Linked DNA regions of Homo sapiens: region 1 is linked to region 2. Evidence: fine-mapped expression QTL. Tissue or cell type: sigmoid colon. Region 2 holds a variant in brackets; the other region holds the start of a gene. All regions are shown on one strand. Distances are between the middles of the regions.

Region 1 (6,387 bases), 34 kb before region 2:
AGCCCCTGCTGCATCCTGGGAAAGGAATGTCCATGAATTGTGACTGTGTAAAGGTGTATGTAAGCAGGGAATGCCTGACACACTCCTTCAGATCACCCAGAGGGGATGGAGTGAAGGAAGACGACTCCTTCTTTCCCCTCCTAGTTGGAACCAGAAAGTGTGGGCCAGCATAACACCTTCCAGAAAAGAATTGAGTTGGAATATCTCCCAAAAGCTAGGAGGAGGTTTCAAATACAGCAATCCTGCACTCAGCATCTCTCATTTTTCTCTACCCGGTGCTCAATTCCTGAAAAGAGCATGGCCTCAATGTCCAATGATGTCAGCAACAGGGAGAAGGATGTCAGAGCCCCTTGGATGCTGGGGTGGCAGCGAGGTCCTCACCTCATGGAGTCTGAGACCTGAGGGGTGGCGAGCACGACCAGCCTCCTGGTGGTCCTGTGCTGTTTCAGAGATGATCCCAGGACCAGGGCACCTTTGGCGTAGGCATCGTTTGTGGTTAGTGTCACAAAGGCCTGATCTTAATACAAAGAAAAAAAAAACACTCATTACAGTATCTTATCTGGAGAAAGCCTTTTCCCCAGGAACCCATTCAAACAGTAATTCAGCAAAACCAGTTCCTCTAACATCAACTTTCTCTATGAATCAAGCTGTAGCCCTTTGGGGAGAAAACCCCAAGTGCCCACTTCAAGAATGGTTCAAGATCATAGCAGGCACATATGGCAACCTTCAACAGGTTGATTAAGCTATAGAAATTAAATCCGACACGCTAAATTCTCAGACAAAACAATAGCTTAATACCAAGAGTTTGAACTCCAGGCAACTAACAGATGGTAATGAAGAGATCAAGTAGTACATTTGCTGTTTCTTCTACAAGGTACTGTAGACAGTGTTTTCAGACAAGCACAAAACCAACCGTCAAACTCAATTCAGTCAGTCTGAAAGCAGAGTCCATATTCTTCATTCTGGTGCTTACGTTTATGCCATGCCTCAGGAATGTATGTATGTATGTATTTTTTAAGACAGGGTCTCACTCGGCCACCCAGGCTGGAGTGGAGTGGTGTGATCATAGCTCACTGCAGCCTCGAACTCCAGGCATCTTATACATAACTGTTTCCTCAACGTGGAGCAAAAGCTCCCCTGCCCCAATATCCCTGAAAAATAACATTGAGTCTCTCCTCAAGTATCAGCTCCTCAAAGAGGCTTTCCCTCCTTGATGCTTCTATCTAAATAGTTATCAATCACTGATAAATAGATTTGGAGATCACCCAAGAAGCCCTAAACAACTGCCTGCTTTTCTTTGGAGAAGAAGGTGCAGGTCCATCCTGCACCCTCCCCCTCCCCCCGCCCAAACCAACAGACACGCACCCCAATCTCCAATAATCACTTAGTTGCCAGAAGAGAAGGTAAATACATGGATTTTTCCTCCTGCTGAACAGTCCCCACCCTCCCAAGACCCCTAGCACAGGCTTCAAGATTTCTCCAGTCATTCCCTGGGACAATTCTGGGCCATGTTCCATCTCCAAGAAACATTAGCAAGTTGGTGGGCATCCAAATGCATAGGACACTTCGGATCAAGTTCTGGTAGGAGTCAGTTGCTTAACCAGCGAGTTGGGACATTTTGTCATGAAGTCCTTCTCTTTCTGACCTGGCTTTCCCTCATTCTCCCTTGCCCGTTTTCCAAGGTGGAGGCTGGAAGCAGTAGAAATTCCACCGAGACATGAGAGGAAGTTGTGGGTTGCCTAGTGGGCCAGCGCATCCCTCGGCTGCTGACCTGAGAGCCATCTTCACACATTTTATTAGGCCCTCTCCCACGGCAGGCCAACTACTAAGTTGTAGGAAGACCAGTTCCCCACCCCCGAAGGGCCACCAGCTTCCCAGTCACTCACACTCTAGGAAAGCTCTGAACAGTGGCACCTGTCCCTTGACAGGCCCATCAACATCCGCCTGTACTTGCTTCTATTATCTTCAGCCCATTATAACATGGGTAACATCGCTGTCAATCTGTACCAAAAATACTTAAGCTAGGCAAAATGAATGATCATCTAACTCAAATGAAGTCCAGGTTCCAGGCGATCATGGAGAAAAATGTAATAAGGTGAGCAGGATTCAAGGATTTCTGGAAGCAAGGATATGGATGATTTCCAAGATTAAATAAGGGATAGAACACAGGTTAGAACACCAGACTAGCCAACATTACAAATGACCAAGAAAGACCAATGACAGCTGGGTAGGAGTTTAATCTTCCTAAAGACGGCTGAACTCTGGGTTACACCTGCAATCTTTGTGGCAGTTCAACTGCTGTAATAACCCTGGCTATTAGCCTCAATGACACGGAAGGACCAGCTAACTCGGAGCTTCCCAGTGCTGGGGCTAACTCGTGGAGTGGCCCGGACGCCTCGCAACAAGTGAAGCCAAAGCCGGCGCCCTCCCACCAGACGGGGCTCGCGCCCGGGGACGCTAGTCCGACTCCCGGCTTCCCGCAACCCGGCCCCAAAGGCCTAAAAATAGGCTCAGCGTGGCGGCCGGGGCCGGGGCGGGCGGCGGAGGAGCCGGGCGGAGGCCGCAGTATCCCCGCCTCGGAGCCCCTGCTTCCTGGGGTTCCGGGCCGCCAGAGGCCGGGGCAGCTCCCCACGATGCCGCTGCGCCCCGGACTCCCGCCTGGAACCCCCAGGGGAACCGGCTCCCCACCCCCACACGGCCCCGCCGCAGCTGCTCCGCCCGCCGGCCCTTCGCCGTGAGAGCAAGAGGAAGGACGAGGAGACGGAAGCAGGAACGAGAGCTCCGGCCGAGGGCCCGGGCTCTGCCCGGCTGCCCCATCCCTGCACTCTGGGGGGCGGCGGGGCGGCAGCTGACGCAGGCAGAAACACGCCCGGCTGCGGCCAGCCAGCAACTTTGCGGCGGTTTCGTCCTGCCGGGAACACTCCGGGGCTGAGGGCGGAGGAGAAGGGAGGCGGCGGCTGGGCAGGAAGCCGGGGTCCCGGGGCTGGCGGCGGCGGGCTGCGCGGCGGTACCTGTCATGGTGCTGCCGGGTGCGCAGGCGGCCGGGGCAGCCTCAGGTTGGTGACTCAGAGAAGCCGGCACCGGGAGGGAGCGCGGCCAGCGAGGAGGCACGGCGGGGAACCGAGCGTCTGCCCCGTGCGCTCTTATAGCGGCCGTCACGTGGCCGCGCACGCTCTCGCTGCCGTCCGCATCCTCCCAGCTGCGCGGCCGGCAGGGGCGGTGGCCCGCGGGGCTCCGGGTCCCGCGTCTCCCTCGGCTCCTCCTCCCTCCCTCGGGGCTAGGCTGCCGCTGCGGCTGCGGCTCACCGGCGCCCCTGCTCCTACTTCCCCGGGGCGCCTGCCCTTGTCAACCGCGCGCCCCCTGTCGCCGCTAAACCTGGGAGTTAAGGGGGACTTTGGGGCTGAGTGCGGCATCAAACTCCCCAAGAAGCCAAGGGTTAGGGAACCTTAAAAAACAAGCAAACAAACCCCAGATTACTCTAGTTAAAATCGTGAGTCTGAACTGCTTGAATGAAACGTAAAATTTACGCTTTTTTTGCAGAATTTCGATCAGCCTCTATAATCATTCCTTAGTGTACTCACAATGGTTTTGTACCCTTAACCTAAAAAATATAGTGAATATTTCGTAAATGTTAAATTCTTGGAGCCATCTGCATCAATTAGGCATTTAAGTGCTTCATTTAATCCTTGTACGAACTCAGTGAGGTGTTACATATTCATTTTACAGACGAGGAGGAAACTGAGCTCAGAAAAGTTAAATTAACTTTTCTTTTCTTTTTTTTCTTGTATTTTTAGTAGAGACAGAGTTTCACCATGTTGGCCAGCCTGGTCTGGAACTCCTGGCCTCAAGTGATCTGCCAGCCTTAGCCTCCCAAAGTGCTAACTTTTCTATAGTCATATAATATAAATGGAGAAAGTAGGATTTAAACCCTGGCAGTTTGGTTACAGAATCAACCTTCCCACCCAGAAAGTCTTGGTGCCTCTTGTACACAGGGGCTCCAAAAAGGTTAGTAAATTATTGTAACTGTGGTTAGCCAATGCTAACCTGTTTCACAAATCTTGAAATGGTCAATTTGTCATTTTTCTAGGAAGTTGAGAAATAGCTTTAATGTGATCACATCCTTCTCTGCTCCCCATCCCCAGTCCAAACACAGAACAAGCCTCGGGTAGTTCAGTTCTCTGCAAACTGAAAACTGAAATTGCTCGGTAAATGTTGAATGAGTACTGCAAAGCCATTTGGAAACCAATCAGGAAGTTGACATCAGTTCAAAAAGCAAAACAGATGCTTAAGAATAAGTGATTTATTTGCAAAGGTGGTACTGCTGTCCTCAAACCAGTTATATCACTGTTTCCTCGTGTGTGGGTGTGGATCTCCTACATCAGAATCACTTGGGGGCACTGGTTAAAGCGTAGATTTTTGGGCCTAAGCCCAGACCTCCTGAATCAGAATCTTAAGGGTAGGTTTATTTTGGTGCAAAATAATTTTGAAATCCATGCATTTTTTTTTTATAATATGTATATTCTATGGACTTTTTGAAGTCGCGTCATATACTCTTGAGGTAATGAAATACTCTGTAGGCATAATCATTATATATTTTTAATATAAAAAGCTGTTCAAAATATATTATTTGAAGAAAAACAGGTTACAAAACAAAAAGAATCTTAAGGGTAGAACCTTAAAATCAGTATTTTAAATATCACCTTCCAGGAGCCTCTCTTGAGTCCTTCCTAGTCTTGACCATGGCCTAGAGACCGCTGATCACATGGGAGGCCCTCCCAGTTACTTGGCATTATGTGCTTCCGTTGTAGGAAACAGAAAAGTGGAAAGGGCAATAGATGGGTTTCCACTTATTCAAAAGATATAGACATAGAAGAGTTGGAGCTCTTTAAGGAACACAAAGGCTACACTTTTGTATCTTAAGTGGGGAGAGGGAAAACAAAGAGAGGTACTTCTCAGTCTGATTGCTCTTTTGCAGACTGAGAGGTGAACTTGGAAGAGTGAGATTTCCATCTTTCACCCAGAACCCTCCTGCCATCAGCTGACCCTTAACCATCTACTTCTTGCAGCCTACTATCTCAGGCTGGACTTAGCCAGGGATGTGGTGATGGGGCTGAAAGGGCAAAGCCAGGAGGTAGAACTGGGGACAACTGGGAAAAACAGAAAAGCTTCCCTTAGAACAAGCTCCTCTCTGCTGCAACTCCCAGGACGTTTAAGTAAAAGGAACGGTTACCACAGCTTCCCTTCCTGAGCTTCATGTATATTTACACAAATAGAAAGTTTACAGCTTTTACCACTTTGAATCAAATAGGGACATTTTGAGGTTGCTACAATCTGTTCTTCTTCATTGTCTTAATATAGATCATAATGACCCCACTGCCTACTTTTCCTGAGGCTGCCCTGCAGTGAGCTTCAGTCTGGTGTGAGAGCAAGACCTCTCAAACTTTAATGCGCACACAGATTGCCCAAGGATCTTATTAAAATGCGGATTCTGACTCAGTAGTTTGGGGGTGGGTCTCCCAGGTGATCCCCAGGCTATGGACCCACACTTTGAATAGTGAGGTGTTCAAACATTTTGGATTGTAAGGCCTTAGAGGTAGTGGATAAACATGGTATAGTGAGGCAAATGTTTCAGATTTTAGCTTGTTATTTTTTTTCTTGTGAAACTTGAACTAGTAAAATTACAGAATCCTAAAAGAAAGATTTAAGTTAAAAAAGATAAGTTATACCCTACATCAGTAGGCATGACTATTAACCATTTAAACCTATGCTGAATTCATATATTCGGAATGGTCCAAAATTCATTTTAAATTGGCTTTGTAATGCATTATGTAATTTTTTTGGCAGGATACTTACCTTCCTAATTAAGTTTTGTTTAAGATAATGCTGAAATCAGTTTGCATTCTTTTGAGCACACACACTAATTGATGGTGGGGGCAACTGACCTGGAAATATATTCCGGAGCAGAGGGCAACCTACTCGCCTGAGAATCAAATGGTTCCCACGGAAAGTTTGTGAAATACATATACCACATCTGGCCAGACACAGGAACTAACTAGTCAACTAACTTAAAATTTTGCCCTTAATTGATAACATACACAATCTGTACCTGGGATTGTTGTCGGTAATCACAATATCAAGCAAAAGTTTGGTTTCAAGAAATAATATCCTTGGAGGCCCAAAGTAGTCCGTTCTTCACTTGAAAGCTAGAGTCCCAAACTCCAAAAGTTGCAGTAGCCTGATGGCTGGTTACATAGCTTTTTTTTTTAATCCTTATTGTTACATAACTCACATTGTGTAAAATTCAGCCACTTGTGCTGAATTAAAGTGTATACCTAAATGGTTTTTAGTGTATTCACAGAGTTGTACAACTATTACCACAATCTAAGT
Region 2 (10,572 bases):
TTTCAAAATGTTACTTTTCCTAAAAATTCTTGCAGGTTCATAGAGATAGGGAGCTTAAGCTATAGAGATGGCTAAAATGTACCCTGGTTAGAAAGACTTCCCTGACTATATCCTTCCTGACGATATATCATATATTAAGTCATTTTTTTCTGACTAGCATGTAAGGGTGTATGGACAAGACTTTGTCCTTTTTAATGGCTTTATCCTCAGCACCTAATACAGTGCCTGGCACATAGTAAATTATCAATAAATATGTGTTAGTTAAATTAGTGAAACAGGCAAATTCAAAAAAGAGGCTAATTTGGGAATTGAGGGGGAAGATTATGAGTTAGCTTTAAATTCACATCATCCTAAAAGACAACATTTTTTGATATTGGCAAGAGGTCAAGGCTAGGAGTGCAGCTTTGTGCCTTCACAGGTCTAACTTCTTTATGAGCATCAGCACAGCCTCTTGTGGACAGCGCCCCTCCCTGGGGGTTATCTCAGTGTTTTTCCTCTTGCATTAGGAGTCCTTTTCTTTCCCTGTGTGACTCATCTCCTCCTGGGTAGAGGAGGGGAGGACAGCCTTGGGATAAGGGGAAGTATCAAGAAGCTGCTGAGCCTATGAGAGGACAACCCAGAAACCACATTTCCTCTCTTAAGCTCCCCATCATATAACTAGTCAATGCTTTCTAGACACTCCAGATATAATTATTGGGATGATACACTACAAACTTTTCAAAATGTATTTGACATAGCCTGTAATAATCCAAATGAGAACAGAGACAACAAGAAGGCACACCTGTAGCTCATTTGTTTCCGCTGTTTCAATTGCTCTAATTCCCCTTTTCCAGTAGCCCATTAGGATCACCTGCCAAATTGACTTATTTAATGAAATTTCTGATGTACATTCATGTGTTTTCTAAAATAATCTCTTTAAGAAAGCACATTTTTCCTTCTCAAATGCAGTTCTGCCTTTTCTTGATAGGAACCCCATTCTAACATCACTACTGACTGTATTGAAATGAATGAATACATTATAAAGCACTTTATCTTTATTGCTGCCTGAAGTGGAGAATATAATTGCCAGCTGTGTATCCCAGGCACATAATTCCATTACTAGGTTCTTACGGAGCCATCAGTCCCATGGATGGTCCTTTGCTTGACAAACCAGCCCATCAAATTCCAAATCTGCCTTAATGGCAAATGCCACCTCTCGATCAGGTCACTGCTCCAGCCTGAATTCAGCAAATGTTACCAGAATACTTACCCTGGGGTACCCACGCTGCTCTTAGTTACGGGGTGCCTATCTTGCTCTTAGTTCTGCTCAAAAAAGCTTGTCATGCTTGAGGTCACAGCTTTTGGTCAAGGGTCCTTCCAGGATGAAGCTGATCTACGTTTTCTTGGACTGTCCACAAACATCCTTAACAGGTGCTAACTCTATTTTTAAATACTCTAGCAATATTTGTATGGGGAGCAGGGGCCAGCCACTATTCGGAAGTGGGCTGGTGAGGATTTTGATAGTGTTTTGGCTTTTTTGTGTTGGCTGGGTGGTGACACAGTTTCTTCAGATATCTTTAAATATATCATAGTCTACCAAATAAAGATTAGTTGAGGTGTGTGGGTTGGGGAGAAAGTGGTTAAGAAAACTTTTCTGCCAGCATACAAACTACCCTGGCTTCATACTTTGCTCTAAATTTCTGTGTAATCCCAGGGTTTTAGAGGTAAACCTGTACGGATCTCCTATCTTACACAAGAGGGATGAGCACTCACATTTACTGAGGCCACATGAGGGCTTGGCGCAGTTGGGAGCTTTTCATTTACTCTCTCAGTTGGCTGATGAGGAAACTGCTGGTACTTTTGTCCTAGCACACAAAGAATATAACCATCCTGAAGGAAAGAGAGTTTTGATTAAAGAGGGGAGGGTGAGAGAAGGAGTAACACTGGGGCAGGGCAGAGGATGGTATGCATGGATGGGTTTGCTGGAAGGAGAGGAGGACTCAGGAGACCCGGTGGTAGGAGGGTGATATGAAGAGGAGGGTGGCCCAGGATACACTGAGCACACTTTTGCACGTTAGTGGAAGACACTGGAAGTACAATGTCTGATACAATTTCTGGGCTGCCTTTGCCACAATATTCCAGGTTGCTGATATCTGCTTTCAAGGTAAGTTTGTCTGATTAGAATCTAGAGAAGTGTTTGAGAAAGCAAAGAGGGGTGAAAATGTTATTACTATTATTTTAGTGGTGGTAATCATTACCACCTGCTGAAAGCTTAATATGTGCTACAAACTGCTATGTGTATGATGTATCTTACATAAGTTAATTTTTACGAAAAACTTGGAGGTTGGTGTTCTTATGCTTATTTTAGAGGTGGATGAACTTTCTTGGCCAGATTCTCACAGCAAATGGGAGATCTGGGATTTGAATGCAGATTTGTCTAGCTCCCAAATTTATGTGATGGAATATCAAATAAATAACTTAATCTCTACTCATAAAACATGGATTCCATATCCCTTTTAGAACCATTTTTATGTGATTCAAGCCAATCCAGAGCATAACAACACTAGAAGATATAATAGCAGTAAGATAAACTGCCTCTTTAGCTATTTCCAAATTCATGGTCTCAATTAAGCCTTTTTCACATGTGCTGGCCCTTGTAATTCCTGATGTACTTTTCCTAATTCCAAATGTCTGGTAACAATTTATGATGTATAATTAAATGGGCTACCCTCCTTTTATCACGCCTTCTAGATATAGTCCCATCACATGAAACAAAGCGAAGCAAAACACTTCTTTGATTTAATGTTGACAGTCTCACATTCTCATTCTTATTAAGCTAATAACATTTAAAGATGATACTGAGGCTCTTTAATAATCCAGCAAGAAGAAAAATACAATTAGGCAATGATATGGTTTGGCTGTGCCCCCATTCAAATCTTGTCTTGAATTCCCAAGTGGGAAGGGAACCTGTGGAACTTGTGGGAGGGACCTGGTGAGAGGTAATTGAATCATGGGGGCAAGTCTTTCCTGTGCTGTTTTCGTGATACTGAATAAGTCTCACGAGATCTGATGGATTTAAAAAGAGGAGTTCCCCTGCATAAGCTCTCTTTGCCTGCTGCCATCCATGTAAGACATGACTTGTTCTTCCTTGCCTTCCACCATAATTGTGAGGCTTCCCCAGCCATGTGGAACTGTAAGTCCAATTAAACCTCTTTCTTTTGTAAATTGCCCAGTCTTGGGTATGTCTTTATCAGCAGTGTGAAAACAGACTAATACAGGCAATATCAGGGCAAATAAATACATCTTGGGAAGTGGTAGAAAGGGGAGGAGAAAAGAGATCAGGATTGAGTAAATGCCATGACTAACTAGGTGGGGCAGATTTTACCCGCATGAAGAGAGGTGCAAGGGCCCATGTTTATCTGAAACCCACCTGCTCAGTGGAAACCCTCCAAAATTTATTCCCATGTAACAATGGGCATTCTTAACAAGAGGCATAAGGCTATATCATGTTGGTTAGAAATCCTAAAGAAGAGTGATGCTGTGAGGAAGTAGGGTAACAAGCTGGTTTCTGGGTCTGGTCAGCCTTCTCTGTGAGGGGCCCTGAGGATATTGGTGGACGTGTTCAGGAATAAGAGGGTTCTGGGGCTGAGAGAAGAAAGGGAGCACAAAGGAAACAGCTAAGACTTTATTTCCGTGGGCTTTCTTGAAGGTCAGTCTGGGTAGAGTTCCAGAGATAAGCTCACTTTTGCTCTACCTTCAACTTAGAAAATTAAGAAAATGCCAGTCACCATGGAGGCCTCTGGGAAATGCCATGCTTCCCTATGAAGGCAGCTTACCTCTGCCCTGGAGGACTCTACTTCTATAGTTTTTCTTTTTTCTTTTTTTTTTTGAGACTGAGTCTCGCTCCATCACGCAGGCTGGAGTGCAGTGGCAGTGTCGGCTCACTGCAACCTCTGCCTCCCGCCTCCCGGGTTCAAGCAATTCTCCTGCCTCAGCCTCCCAAGTAGCTGGGATTACAGGAGCGTGCCACCATGCCCAGCTAATTTTTGTATTTTTAGTAGACACAGGGTTTTGCCATGTTGTCCACTCTCGAACTCCTGACCTCAGGTGATCTGCTCACCTTGGCATCCCAAAGTTCTGGGATTACAGGCATGAGCCACTGTGCCCAGCCTGCTTCTACACTTCTTAAGGAAGAGGTTGCTTGTTTGTTTATGTATATCTATTTATGTATTGATATCTTCTACACTCCTTATTTACTAGGAAAAACTCAGTTTTCTTGGTATGTAACTGGAAAGTGTGCAACGGGGAAAATGTGGCTGTTTATAGCCCTCTGACCTTGAACATGTTACCAAAGCAATTTGTGTTTCAGCTGCTTCCTGTATGAAGTGGATCTCATAGGCAAATATAGAAATGATACATTCTTCATTGAGAAACATCACATCACTGTCCTCTTATGTAGATGAAAGTATTTTTACCATATGGCTCCTCCTTTCATTGTTAACAACCTGCTCCATCAGGAGAGAGATAATGAATGCAAAGAAAAAATACTTTTTCCACTCTAAAAGTCCATTCAGATTCAAAAGTCCTTACAAATACCTGTGTTAGAGGAAGAAACATCCACATCCCCATGCTGCATTTGGAGTGTGTTTTCTGTTTGTTCTGTTCTCAGTAGGGAGAACCGCTTATTACTGTCCTAGGCATGAGCCTTTTATATACTTGAAAACCGTCGCTAGCTCACCCTGTAACCTTCTCTCCTCCAAAGGGAATCACCTTGGTTCATTTAACCTCTCCTGATCTTTATTTTTCAGATCTCTAATCACTTTGTGGCTTGCTTCTCAACTGACCCCAGTTTCTCTCTCTCCCATTAATTGCAGACCTCAGAACTAGACCCAGGGTCTGCCCAGGTTTGTGTGGCTGGGCAGGGGAGATGGGAATGGAGAGGCGGACAGTGACAGCAGTTACTTGTTAGTAGACCTATAAGGTGGGAGAGATGGGAGGAGTAGGCAGTCTTTGTATAACAGTTAGAAGTCAGGATTTTTTTTTTCCACTTCATTTTATTTCAGAGTTTCTGAAACAGTGGCACGTACATCGATAGACAATTTCCTGCCGAAGCATTGAGCAAGACTTTGCCATGGGCCCAGTACTACTGCTGGAGTTCAAAAACTACCAACTCTTGGTCCCCAGGCTGAATCCTGCCTGTGGACAGGGCTTGTTTTGCTCACACTGTTAAAAATAATGTTTTAATTAGTTACTGACTCTCATTTCAAAATGAGAAATTTGATTTAGGAATCATCCAGAGTTCCAGCTTCTGTGAAACTGGCGGTTTAGGAATAGTGGGCTTGCATGTCAGGCCTGGAACCATGTGCTGGAGCTGAGCAGCAGCTCCCCCTATGGATGGGGGACTCCCCTCCAGTTCCTTTGAGTCCTGCCTTGCCTATTGTTGAGGACTGAGTTGTGTCCTCACTTCCTGTCATTCACATGTTGAACCCCTAACCTCCATAGTGACTGATTTGAATGAAGATAGGGCCTTCAAGGAAGCAATTAAGGTTAAATGAGGTCACGAGGGTAAGGGGAAGAGACACTAGAGAGCTCTCTCTCTGCATGCATTCAGGGGAAAGACCTTGTAGGGAACAGTGAAAAGGTAGCTACA[A/G]GCTAGGAAGGGAGGCCCCACTAGAAACTCACCTTGATGGAACCTTGAACTTGGACTTCCAGCCTCCAGAACTGTGAGAAAATAAGTTTGTGTTGTTTAAGCTACTCAGTCCGTGCCATTTTGTTATGGCAGCCTGAGCTGATGAAGCCAGCCATGCACCTCACTTACTTTGTGCCTAGCTTCTGAGGTTATCTGTGTCGAGGCCCCTGCTCTATGTGTGGAAGTTAAAAGAGCGAATTATCCTGTTCCTCTACTTTGTCTACTGGCAGAGAAAGTTAGAGAGAGAAATAATTTGTAACAGAGGGCATCATACAAGTGATGTACAAACTGGCATTGGAGGACAGAAGAACTGTCTGTGGCTGGGATGGGAGGGACAATGCCTCTTCATTGTGAGGAGTGAGCGTGTCAGATGGGTGTTCAGAGATTAGGAGGATTTCAGCAAGTGGTGAGGGAATGAAGGGCAGGAGCAAAGGCATCCAGGCATGAAAGTGGATGGTAATCCAGGTTTGACTGGAGTTCCAGGGTACGTTGCAGGTGGAGGGTGTGCAATCGGAGACAGGGCCAGAAAGGGAGGACAGGGTCTGATCAGAGCCCTGAATGCCACGCCATAGGATTTAGTTTAATTCTGGAGTGAATGAGGAGTACCTGAGAAGCTGGAAGAGGGAACCCAGGGGCTGAAAGATATATTTTAATTGATTAATTCTCTGTTTACTGAGAACATCCGTTGTGTCGAGGCACGGCAGATCCAATTGTGGACAAATAGAAGTCAGTCTCTGCCTTTGCGGAGTTGACAGAAATAGATGATTAGATTTATAACAACGTTAGGCAGTGAGGAGTGCTATGAAGAAAATACAGCAGTGTCGGGATAGAGTGTAATACTGTGGGTGCTAGTGTAGATGTGCGTGCTCAGGGAAGGCATGACATTCGGGCATAACCCTGAATGAAAGCGAGAGGGTGAACCATGTGGTATCTGAGAGAATATAATTCTAGATAGAGGGACAATCAAAGTGCAAAGGCCCTGAGGCAAGAACACAATTGTGTTCAAAGAACAACATAGAGGCCGGTCTGGCTAGAGTAAGCAATGAGAAGAATTGTGGGCAAGGAAGTTGAAGTAGTCTCCTAGTCATACACAGGCTAGGAGAAGGGCACATTTTGGACCAGTACACAAATGAAGTCCTCAAACAGAGCTGACTGCGGAAGACAGGGCTTTAGGGACAGGATGAGATGGATTACCCATCTCCCAATCTCTGGATCAATTGTGTGCGGTGGCAGCCCTCAGTGGAGAGGGATAACCGAAGTCCTGTCTCTCCCAAAGTTCAGACCGTCAGCCTATAACTGTCCCCAAAGAAGGGTGAAGGCAGGGACAGGGTTTATCTGCTTCCCTAGCTCAGAAGCCCAGGCGGTTCCACAGGGGATCCGGGAGAATACAAGTGCTCCTCCTCTAACAAGCACCACACTGCCGCTTAATGTTACAGGCCTCTGACAGATGAAATCAAACCTGTTTTGGCCCTAGAGTGAAATGATTTATTCCAGCAAGTGGAAATAGGAAGAGTTGAAAGGCAGTACAGGCCAGAATGTGGGTTGGCTTCGTAGACTGAGTAATGTGGGTTGGCTTGGTGTAATTCGTTTTTGGAATACATTTTTTTTTAAGGTTTAGTGAGGAGGAGGTAAACAATCCTTTGAGAACCATATAAAGCTCTGCCTCCAGCGTGTGATGGTCAGAGAGCACGGTCATTGCCTTTGGCATTCTCTGCTAAGTTTTCACCCTTGGTGTTTTGCCTTTTCCTTCTTGCTTGGCTGGGAGAGTTATGAGCTCCTTAGGAAAGAATGTCCTGCTTTCTCTGTTGGCCCTGCTGAGGGGCAAACATTAAAAAAAAAAAAAAAAAAAAACCATTAGCTGTAAATCTCTGTGGTAAGAGTGCCCTCTTCTGGTTCGGCTTCTTTGTCTTGAGCTGCCAGTTCCCTAACAATGCTGTTTTTAGGCTTCCGATCTTTTTGATGAAATAAACTAGCAAAGAAAAAAAGCAAAAAAATACCATTGAGGATACATTCATTTCACCCAGTGTTTCTAGAACCCCTTCCACAGTTCTAATTCTTACTTGGCCATATTTTCTGAAATTTCGGACCCAGACTTTCTTTGGGATTTACACTTAGCCTTTTGCGAATCCAGAAAAACAGGTAAAAATAGTAGCATTTCAGAGCTTGGAACGGGTGTTGCAATGGGTTCGTCTGGTCACTTTTATGCTTCTGTTTCTATGCCATTTATTAAGTGCCTACTCAATTTATTGAATATTTGAGGGCCAAGCATTCTCCTAGGCCCTCCAAGATCATAAATGAGATACAGCCCTTGCCTTTGCTAAGAATGTCGTGGGAAATATAGATGAGTAACAGAAAATTACAACATCAGCTGACAAATAACTGAGATGTGAACAGGTGGTTATAGGGGGACATGAAGGAATTTCTTTGGTTATTCAAGCCCAAATGTGAGAAAAATCAATGCCTCCTCAACTCGAATTGTTCCTGTAACAGTCACATCTCTTTATGTACTAGATCCAGGGCTCTATGATGAGCAAATCGTGATGGGTTTAATATATTTCTTCTACTAAACCCCAAAAATAATTTTAGATCTAAAAGGGACATGAAAATATGTCAGTTTTCTCCATTTTTTTTTCTATGTCAAGGGAAAAATTTTCTTTTACAAGGAACATTTTGAGAGGCTCTATATATCTAGCTTCAAGTAATTAAAATTGGTTTTAATTGTGGAATACCAATGCACAATTCTGTGTGGGGTTTGCTAGAAATCATAGATTCAATAGAAACAATTTTCCTCCATATAAAGGGAGAGTTATATTTCATGAGACTCTCCAGAAATCATTCTTCCATTCTGGTCTCTTGTGACTTTTCTCTGTGGGCTCTAACCCATAATCTTGCATATATACAGCTCAGGATGTTACTTAGTGTCCCAATGGCCTTTAAGGTTGTATTTTGTTTTATTTTAGAAAATTTGTTAATGAAATTTTCTGTTTTCTTCTATGTCCTGGATCTTTTGCATAAGAAAAGCTTTAATACAAAGTAGGAGAAGGAGATGGGAGGCAGAGAGGAAAGAGAGAATTCATTTGTGAGCTACAGCAGTCTTCCTGTGTCCATCTCTTGGCTATAAATTCAGATAAAACATGTCAGTGATATTTTAGGGGATGCTTCTCATCAGGTATATATGGTGTTGCTTATTTTACTTTATTTAAAATATTTATTTTATTTTTAACTGCCTATGCAAATTTATCTGCATAAATCTGGTCGCTTTTTTCATTTCTTTTTCCAGTATTGGTTTTAACTCTCAATCATGTACTAAAGAAAGGACTTCTAACTTTTAAATTAGAACTGATAAGCTTTCTTTCTCATAGGACATCTATTTCTAGGTTCCAGCTTTGGTTCACTATACCTTGTCCAAAAATATCTTCTAAACTCAAGAATTCCTAAGGGGGCTTTGGAGCGAGAGGTATCCACAAAATTCTTAGATTACACCCTGAGAAACACTGATGTAGGCACTGTTTTTCTGATTTGAAATTAAAAATCTCAAATGGACTTGGAGGAACAGAGGCTTAATGTAGCTCTGAGCCTGCTCAGTTCTGAGCTAGTCTCAGTAACCAACTGTGGCTGGAGACACAAGGGCTGTACATATACACAGATGGCAGGCAATTGAGCTTTTCAATTCTGCTTCCGTTTTTTTTTTTTTGGTAGGAGCAGAGTTGCTAGATCAAGGATATCAGTTAAACATAATGCTCAAAATGGCAGTGAGGAGCAACCAGTGAGGGAAGCGGCAAGACTGACGGGACAGGGTGAAGGCTCCTGAGTTCCATTGGCTCTGTCATTCATGGGTGATGTTCCAGAATGAGCAATGTATGTGTTCTGAGCTTCAGTTTCTCTATCTCTAAAGTAATTAATAGTGTGCTCCTTGGAGGTGCCTCATGGAGAATGAGCAGCGAGGGGGCAAGGGATCCTCACCTCTGTTTCAACTTACCCTTTCAGTTTTTAATTCTATTTTATATATTTGACTTCATCATAAGCTCTTGTCTGAAGAAAGGGTTACCAGCAAAACAAAACATAACAAAAAAACTTTTAAAAATTATTAGACTAAATGATTTCTAAACTTCCTGCTAGCTCTAGAACTATATGGGAGCCAGAATAGTGGTATTTGTTGCTTTTCTGCCTAGTGTCTATAGTGACTTTCTTCTGATTCTCCTGCAGCCATTTTTGTGACTCAGCTTGGCATTGCCAGAGGCCATCACAGAGAGCTTAGGCATTGAGCTAGTCCAAAGGCAGCCAAACAGAGGTGGGCCCTGGTGGTGGCAGCCTTTAATTTCAGAATGAAGCCTCACCTGTGGCTACCCTGTCTCACAGGGTTTTCAGTTACATGAATCAATATGAATCAATGAATTCCTTTTTTTTTTTTTTTTTTGCTTAAGCCATTTAGAGTTGGGTTTTCTGTCACTTGAAACCAGAAGATTTCTAATTGAATTAGTTGGTATTTAAAAGATAATCAACAAACATTTATTGAGATGTCGTAGAGTATAAAATAGAGTATTAAATGCTTGATATAAAAATCAAGGCACTATTTCTATCAATAAAAAATCTAACTTTGCTGTCCTTTGTGTATAGAAATGACAGTCCTGATTTACTATGTATAGGATATTCTCTTTGTTTATATAACTACTGATAAAAACTCCTACTGAAGCTATTAAACTTACAGTCTTGGTCTCACTAACATGTTGGGCTATCTGAACTCATGTGGAGATAGGCAAATCTGCCAAATATGAAACCAATAAAAAGAGATCACAAAACTACAAAGCACAATGAAGGAAACAGGGCTAAAGTTACTTTCCTGTACTGCTTGGTGAGGGCATAGATCGTGCCAACTTTTCCAGGGCAATTTGATGTTATTACCA

The links. PIP is the estimated chance that this variant, and not a neighbour inherited with it, causes the effect.
Region 1: it holds the start of GYG1, and the variant in region 2 is fine-mapped to the expression of GYG1 in sigmoid colon (GTEx, PIP above 0.99).

The regions. Positions count from the first base shown.
Region 1 is chr3:148,988,272-148,994,658 of GRCh38, reverse strand. GYG1 (glycogenin 1) reads right to left here and starts at 3,119. Exons shown (of 8, transcript NM_004130.4): 1 at 3,012-3,119; 2 at 382-517. The coding sequence starts at 3,018. RefSeq lists silencers at 2,103-2,397, 2,431-3,480.
Region 2 is chr3:148,952,647-148,963,218 of GRCh38, reverse strand. LOC107986045 (a long non-coding RNA gene) reads right to left here. Exons shown (of 3, transcript XR_001740565.2): 3 at 7,131-7,637. Among named protein-coding and RNA genes, the nearest start is that of GYG1, 34 kb to the left of the region's middle. RefSeq lists an enhancer at 5,207-5,708. The variant A/G (reference allele first, on the strand shown) is at 5,630.